Regions from separate parts of the Homo sapiens genome. Here all the other regions are linked to region 3. The links come from fine-mapping of genetic effects on gene expression. A gene starts in region 3. Each other region holds a variant in brackets. All regions are shown on one strand. Distances are from middle to middle.

Evidence for each region. PIP is the estimated chance that this variant, and not a neighbour inherited with it, causes the effect. A credible set is the group of variants that fine-mapping cannot tell apart.
Region 1: its variant is the best candidate, but not a certain one, in a credible set for the expression of RGS10 in whole blood (INTERVAL, PIP 0.83).
Region 2: its variant is the best candidate, but not a certain one, in a credible set for the expression of RGS10 in whole blood (TOPMed, PIP 0.84).

The regions. Positions count from the first base shown.
Region 1 is chr10:119,567,127-119,569,883 of GRCh38, reverse strand. No RefSeq gene overlaps it. Among named protein-coding and RNA genes, the nearest start is that of RGS10, 26 kb to the right of the region's middle. The variant A/G (reference allele first, on the strand shown) is at 1,387.
Region 2 is chr10:119,498,982-119,501,738 of GRCh38, reverse strand. It overlaps RGS10 (regulator of G protein signaling 10), which reads left to right. Exons shown (of 5, transcript NM_001005339.2): 5 at 1,480-1,922. The coding sequence ends at 1,626. Among named protein-coding and RNA genes, the nearest start is that of RGS10, 42 kb to the left of the region's middle. The variant G/A (reference allele first, on the strand shown) is at 1,641.
Region 3 is chr10:119,541,473-119,544,229 of GRCh38, reverse strand. RGS10 (regulator of G protein signaling 10) reads left to right here and starts at 1,511. Exons shown (of 5, transcript NM_001005339.2): 1 at 1,511-1,640. The coding sequence starts at 1,592. RefSeq lists enhancers at 1-256, 519-598 and silencers at 809-968, 1,019-1,088, 1,099-1,838, 1,889-2,058.

The DNA.
Region 1 (2,757 bases), 26 kb before region 3:
CAGCTACTCGGGAGGCTGAAGCAGGAGAATCCCTTGAACCGGGAGGCGGAGCTTGCAGTGAGCTGAGATCATGCCACTGCATTCCAGCCTGGGCAACAGAGCGAGACTCTGTCTCAAAAAAAAAAAAAAAAAAAGAATTAAGCTTTTGTTTGGGGGAAGAGAGAGACATGATCTACATAACTTTGATGGCTTGGTTTTTAAACAAGAATATCAGAGTAACAGCGGACAAAAGAAGTATGTTCAATAAATTATTTCCTTAACTTTCCAACTCAAAATACATATGCCGAATTTTGTCTGTTCCAATTTATTGCACTTTAAAGAATTCACTAACCATTGTTTCTCTGAGATGTTCCTCTGGGAGTGATCCACATCTAATAACGTCTTGGAGTCAGCTTGGAAAGTTTGCAAACATGAATCAAACTGAAGTGCTTTTGGATAGCGTTTGAGGAAAGCCAGGGCGACTGTATGCTGGAAAGGAATCTCAGGAGTGAGCTGTCCAGTTGTTGATCTTCCAGCGAGGCTTAGCTTGCCCGTGGGTCTCCTCTTTTCACTTTCCTTCCTTCTTGGGAACTGACAAGAGTTTTGCAAAAAGCCTGGTTGTCATGGTGCTATAGAATTACAGCATTGTTAAGGTAAACCAGATTTTGCTGTATAAAATCAGCAGATACCATAACTTGCCCAAGTGTAATTTTTTTTCCTGGTCCTTTATCTTTCTTCCTTACGTTTTGGTATACCAGCAAAGAGAAGTCTGAAACCATCTAGACAAAATAAAGCATGAAATACGTAGCCATATGCAACTGTGCATGTTCTGAGAATTATTGTATAAATTTCAGGTTTTCACATTCAGTTCACTTTACTGGTTACAAGTTAAGAATTGAGTTGTTCCATATTGGGTTTGTACGATTGCTTTTGCTCACAAAAATAAAGCTAATGTGTAAGTCTTAACAGCTTTTTAAAAAATGAGACTACACATTTAATCATCTTAGCTTGCTACTTTTTGAAGAGGACTAAACTTGAAAAACATTTTTAATTTTCTCTGGCTAGGTTATATTTTAGCAGATGGCATAACTCATACTTTGTTTAATAAGGGTTCAGATTGGGGAAAAAGTGACGAAGGATGATGAAGGAGGGATAAGTCCTTGATTCAGGAGCACATTAACCTGAGACTAGACAATTCTGGGCAGGTGTAGTAAGCCATGAATGGATAATCGGGTGGGGTGTTGATATGTAATATGTTCCTGGTTTAAGACTGTGTACACTTTATCAAGACTAGAAGACTTACCAGGAGACTTACCAGCCTATTGAAAATGAAATATTACCAACATGTTTGCTGATAGATGGCCCTGATAGTTTGTTTTCAATTTCCTTTAAGGTATGTTTTTATTT[A/G]GCAATATGGGTTCTACTTGTGTATTAGAATGTTGGGCAAATGGTCCTGTTTTACAATAGTTGCCTTTGAGCATTTTCAGTAAAATGACAGGGATTAGGATGTCCTTTAAAATCCACATTTCTTATACCCAGGGATATATTTTATTTTTTAAAAATGGATAACTTCATTCCTTGGTTGAAGCTCCCCGAAGGCAGGGACTTGGTTTGTTAACTACACAAATTCTAGTACTTGTAACAGTTCTTGGCATGTGGTAGGTGTTCAGTAAATGTTAAATACATTAATATGATAAGAGGAAATGAAAGTAAACATGTATTTTATTTAGTCTCCCTCTTGAAACCAGAACATTACCTCGTGTTCTATTTGAGTAGAACTTGATCAGAATTGGTGGGGTGCTTGTGAAAAGGTAGATTCTGAGACTCTGCAGTTGTGGGTGAAGGTAGTCTGAAATAAAATTAATTGGCCTGGCGGGGCGCCGGTGGCTCACGCCTGAAATCCCAGCACTTACGGAGGCCGAGGCAGGTGGATCACTTGAAGCCAGGAGTTCGATACCTGCCTGGCCAACATGGCACAACCGCATCTCTACTGAAGATACAAAAATTAGCTGAGCATAGTGGTGCATGCCTGTAGTCCCAGCTACTCGGGAGGCTGAGGCACGACAATTGCTTGAACCTGAGAGGCAGAGGTTGCAGTGAGCTGAGATTGTGCCACTGTACTTCAGCCTGAGCAACAGAGCGAGACTCTGTCTCAAAAAATAAATAAATAAATCGGGGCCGAGCGTGGTGGCTCACACCTGTAATTCCAGCACTTTGGGAGGCCGAGGTGGGTGGATCACCTGAGGTCAGGAGTTCGAGACCAGCCTGGCCAACATGGTGAAACCCCGTCTCTACTGAAAATACAAAAAACTAGCCAGGCATGATGGTGTATGCCTGTAATCCCAGCTACTCGGGAGACAGATGGAAGAATTGCTTGAATCTGGGAGGTGGAGTTTGCAGTGAGCTGAGATTGTGTCACTGCACTCCAGCCTGGGCAACAGGGCGAGACTCCGTCTCAAAAAAAAAAAAAAAAAAAAAAAAAAAAAATTGGCTGAGTGTGGTGGCTCATGCCTGTAATCCCAGCACTTTGGGAGGCCAAGGCAAGCAGATCACTTGAGTCCAGGAGTTCAAGACCAGCCTGGCCAAAATGGCGAAACCCTGTCTCTACTAAAAATACAAAAATTAGCTGGACATGGTGGCACATACCTGCAGTCCCAGCTACTCTAGAGGCTGAGGCAGGAGAATTGCCTGAACCTTGGAGTTGGAGGTTTCAATGAGCTGAGATCACACCACTGCACTCCAGCCTGGGTAACAAAGCGAGACTCCCTCTCAAAAATA
Region 2 (2,757 bases), 42 kb after region 3:
TTATTTCTTTTTTTTTGAGACAGAGTCTCACTCTGTTGCCCAGGCTGGAGTGCAGTGGTGTGATCTCAGCTCACTGCAGCCTTTGCCTCCTGGGTTCAAGTGATTCTTTGGCCTCAGCCTCCTGAATAGCTGGGACTACAGGTGTGTGCCACCACGCTCGGCTAATTTTTGTATTTTTAGTAGAGACGGGGTTTCACCATATTGGCCAGGCTGGTCTTGAACTCCTGACCTCAAGTGATCCACCTGCCTCCACCTCCCAAAGTGCTGGGATTACAGGTGTGAGCCACCGCCCCCAGCACCCTCAGATGTTTAATTTACAAAATAGTGTATGTGTGTTGGGAGAGGGCAGCCTTAAAAGATGTCAGGGTTTTACCATCCACTTGACAACCCCGCCTGGCAGTCAGTGACATTCTAGACATCTCTGGAACTTTCCACTTGGTTGTTCCGTGTACCAGGGTGAACCATGTGGATTTTTAGTTGCAGAGTGTACTGCGAGTTAAGTGGAAAGGTCTGAGAGAGAGAGAAATGAGGGGTGGGAAAGAGATCATAGCCCTTGACAGCTGGAAAAGGCTTTGTGCTTCTCTTTCTCTGCCCCTTTCCTGGGGCAAGGGAGGAGGGCAGATGGCACAGGATTGGGTAGCAGTGGGGGAGAATGAATGCTGGTCACAAGGACTGTGGCCCAGAAAAGAGGTTCAGTGGCGGCCAGAGGAAGCTACTGTGCCTGGGGACAGCCCTCTGAGCACCTGCCATGCCGGCGGGGGCAGCCGTCTAATCTGGGGCACTTCAGCTCTGTCGGGTGTCCTCTTCGCTCACCTGACATACCTTAGAGTTGTTTCATTCTAGGGATGTGCTCCCCAGCCTGTCTGATGGCACAGATGTTGGCATTCTGCAGCTGGCTGCTCTATTCTTTATTTGGGACCTGTTCCCTTGCTAAGATTATAGTTTTGCTGCCCTGCCCTGCAGTGAGCACGCCTCATTTTGACTCCTGGTACAATAATAGGTTTGTTTGAGATCTCGGATGCCAGACTTACTGGGAGTCTTAACAATGCTGGCATCATATGATATGTCAGTGATCTTTTTAACACCACTGTCTCTACAGAAATGGTTTCTATTCGGCTGTCTCAAGCTCTTGGAGAAATACATCCTTGTCTTATCTAGGCAAATAAAGTGGAGAGTCTTGAAGGACTTCTTGGTACAAGGGTCTGAATCAGTGCTGTGTGAATCTATATTTCCGTGGAAAATAAAGGCATATTTGTTCATGTGACTGTCTATATATTCCATTGAGATTATTGCATAATGACCAAAAATCTCCAGGAAATCTGCCTTGTCTAGCAGATGACTTATTTGAGCTTTCTTAGTGTGTTCTTTGCACATGTTAGTATTCTTTGGCACATGGTAGGTATTAATACATATCTGATGGGATGATTTATGGCCTGGATTAGCCTCAGCCTTCAGACTCTTTTTTCTTTTCCTCCTTAGATCTTTAATCTCATGAAGTACGACAGCTACAGCCGCTTCTTAAAGTCTGACTTGTTTTTAAAACACAAGCGAACCGAGGAAGAGGAAGAAGATTTGCCTGATGCTCAAACTGCAGCTAAAAGAGCTTCCAGAATTTATAACACATGAGCCCCCAAAAAGCC[G/A]GGACTGGCAGCTTTAAGAAGCAAAGGAATTTCCTCTCAGGACCGTGCCGGGTTTATCATTGCTTTGTTATTTGTAAGGACTGAAATGTACAAAACCCTTCAATGGGATGTGTGTTTTATTAACTGCTTCACCAGTAAATTTTGCATGATGGCTAAGCTAACATAAAAAAAGAATAATAATAACTTGGAAGTTTTAGTTTACAAAACAGAGATTCCTTCAACACTGGACACGTCGAGCATTTTGTAGCTTAATTAAACCTCATGTAAGGCCACAAGGTGAAACGTATCACACTACCTTTTACCTTGTAAGTGTTTGCTCTGCCTCTCTGGTGAGTGGACGCATGTCCACAGGTCACTTGGTAAATTAACTCAAACATGAGTTGATCCGGCAAACCCAGGCTACTGGGGGTATGGCCTGCCAGTCGCCTTTTGGGTTAAATATTTCTCGAGAGCAAGTTCAGTGCTGGAAAAAGAAAATGAATCACTGACAGCCTCTAAAGACTTGGGAAGCTTGTGTGTGAGTGTCATCAAAGGGTTATTATTTCTTGTGCGTGGGTTGGTCCTGGTTTTGACCACAACCCATGACATTTCATGCAACACAGATAAATAGTTCATCTTGACAGAAACAAGATCTCAACCAGGAAGGAAAAAAAACACAAGTGGGAAATTGTTCAGGGTCCCCATGGCAACTCAAGGTGTTGTTGAATGGGATTGTAGCACAGGTGCGTACTGAGGTTGGAGTTGGTGGGGCTGTTCCCTTCTCCTGTACCCATCGGGGACACATCATAATCCTTTCCTCTCTGCTCCTGCCCTTTGCTGAACTTGCTAACTCTGGCTTGAGACTTCAACGGGGAAAAGAAATGCTGCCTTGAAGCCTGCCCTTCTTGGGTGAGGAGGCTGTGAATGGGGCACGCTTGGGCCAGGCGGGGCACGCTTGGGCCAGGCTGTCCCCGCCAGCCCAGGAACTCCACTTTTAGAGCAGAGCCCACCAGGGCCAAGGTCAGGCTCAGTTCCCTTTGGTGAATTGTTCCTGCTATTTGTAGGGGGTTGGGTGCTGCCACCAGGCCTTTTCCAGGATGTTTGCTAAGCCCTTTCTATTTGTACAAAGTGACCAGCT
Region 3 (2,757 bases):
CCATTACAATGAGATGGAAGTTTGTCTGGGCCCGGAGTAGGCCAACAACAGCAGTTTTAAAAGCAGAACTCCCCGCGCTGGGTCTAACCCTGTTCTTGGTCACCGCGTTCGCTTCAGGAGCCTGGAAATCCTCTTTTGGCAGCAGAAGGGGGAGAGTGCTTGGAAATGCTCGGAGGAAAACGACTTTTGGAGGGGGAATAGCGGGGAGGGAAACAACAAGCAACCACCGGCCACACTTGGGGTGCAACTGGGGCTGTGGGGTGGGTAGAGGGAGAGGGAAAGTGAGCAGAACTGGAAGCTCAGAATAGAAGATACAAAAGAAAGTGCCAAGTAGTGAAAAAAACTGCAAAAGGACGGGGGGATGGGGGGAGGGCGACTGGGGAACGGTTTGGAAAAATAGCAATTAGTACAGCTAAAAATAAAGACCAATTTAGAGACAAAGCCAGATACACAAGGAGAAAAATAAAACTCGCCAGAAAGACAATTTCTTGCAAACCAAATGTTCAAGAAAATGGGGGCTAATGACATCCCCTCTGGGGCTGCTCCATAGAAGAAATGAAATAATAGGAGACCGTAGAGCGCGCAGCGCCCAGCAGGTGACGCCGTGGGGGCTTGAGTGGTCCCGGTCGTGGAGCCTGAAGGCCCTGCCAGAGGCAGTGCCCACGTGTCCCCAAAGTTAGAGAAGTGTCCCGAGAGCGCGGTGTGCGGGACAGAGCACCGCCCGGCGCAGGAACCGGGGGGTTCCTGCAGAATCCTCTCAGATCTCCCCGAGTCCTGGCGCCCGCGCGGCACGGCCGGGGAGAGGGCGCCCACCCGCGGCGGCTCGGCTAGCTCAGCGCACGGGCCCTGGGGACGCCCCACCCGCATTCGCGGGGCGGGAAGGCGCAGCGCCCACGAAGTCGAGGAGCAGCCAGGCCCCAGCAGGCGGGGATCCTGGTGACGAGGAGGCAAAGGCCACAGGCTGGGCCGCGCCCGGACTCTGCAGAACCGCGAGGCCTAGGCTTCCCAGCCTGTGACCCGGGAGGGGACCCCGCCCGCCACCTGCGAAGGCTCGCTGAGAGCCCCGAAGCGCGGTGCGCCCGCGGCGCCGTGCCAGTTTCTCCGGGGCTACAGGGAGAAGGCGGGAGACCGCGATGGGCCCGGGAGCTTGAAGCTGGGCGGGGCGGGCCGGGGCGGCATCTCAGGCGAGGGCCAGGGACCCCGGGACGCGCTAACCGCCTCCGCGGGGCTACTAAGTTCCCGGCGGCGCGGGCTCCCTCTGGGCCAGTGCACCTTATCCCAGGCGCGGGGCACACTCTGGGCGATCGGGGGTCACCCGGGGCTGCCCTGCCCTGCCCCGCCCGGGCACCCCGGAGCGGAACCGCGAGTCCTCACCAGCGGGGGCGGGCAGGGCGCACTGAGCGCGCCACGCGGCGCCTGGCTAGGAGGAGGGCGGCGGGCGGGGACCTAGAGCTCCGGGGCGGTGCTGAGCCCGCTCCTCCTCCTTGCCCTCCTCCTCCTCCTCCTCGCCCTCCTCCTCCTCCTCGCCTTCCTCCGGCTCAGCCGCCGCGCCGCCGGGCTGCTCCTTCTTCCTCCTCGGGCGCCCGCGGCGATGTTCAACCGCGCCGTGAGCCGGCTGAGCAGGAAGCGGCCGCCGTCAGGTAAGCGGCTTCGGGGGCCCGCGGGCTCGGGGTCGGGGCGCCGTTTCGCCCGCCCGGCCTCCTGCCCTCCCTCTTGTGCTCGGGCGCGGCTCGGTGGTACCTCCCAGACTGGAGCCCCGGCCGACCGCACCACCTCTCCCCGCTGGGTACCGCACCTTCGCGGTCCCAGCCGCGACGGGAGCGCAGAGCTCCTCCGGGAGCCCCGGGGAGGAAGTTTGGCTGAAAGAGGAACAGCCGCAGTTTTCTTTTTAGTGATGGTCTGGGAGAAAAAGGAGCGCCCCAAATCTCCAAACTTTGGAGGTGACATGGGGCTCCAGATTCCGAAAGCGGAACGGCGCGCGGGCTTCTCCCTCCGTGACGCTCTCCGCCTCCGCTGCGGGCGTGGGTGGAAGGATGCCGAGCGCCCGGGGGAGCACGGCTGGACCCGGGCATCCGACTGGGCCCCTGGGCCTGGGGCGTCGGGGGCCTTCGCTTCTGCCGCGAGGAGCCAAAAGGTGGGATCGCGAGGGTGGCGGAACCCCAGGATGGAGAAGGGCACTTCTGCGGTCCGAGCCAGCGAAGTTCTGACGTTACGAAGGATTCGCCTTGGCCGTCACTTTGGGCCAGCCTGAGCCACGATCTCGGGCAACTTGATAGGCCAAAGACCCCACGGTGAAGGTGGAGCCGTGCCCTTGATTCCGGTCCTTCCACCCTTTTGCTCATCACAATAGCTACGACCTGTGCAGGCCTTTGGGTGCGCCAAGGGCTTTGTCCACCGCGTTGGGTGAACTCTCCCTTCACCCCTAGGACAACCCGGTGAGTGAGGAGGGAGCGGAAGCCAGGCGCTGTTAGGTAACTTGCCCCAGTCACACTCCGCAGGTGATGGGGAGGCTTTCAAACCCAGGTTCCCCTGACTCTGAAGTTCGGGGGCTTTGCCGGGCTTCCCACGCCAAGATTCACTTCTGCTTGGCGCTCAGAGTCCCAACGCGTTGGTGCATTTCCTTTCTGCTCCTGGTATTTTATGAGGGACATTGTGGTTTAGAGACTGGGACCAGACTGGCTGGATCCGAATCTCACCTTCGCCATATTCACCAGCCGTGGGACCTTTCTGCAGAATGAGGTTCTGCACAGTGGGAAT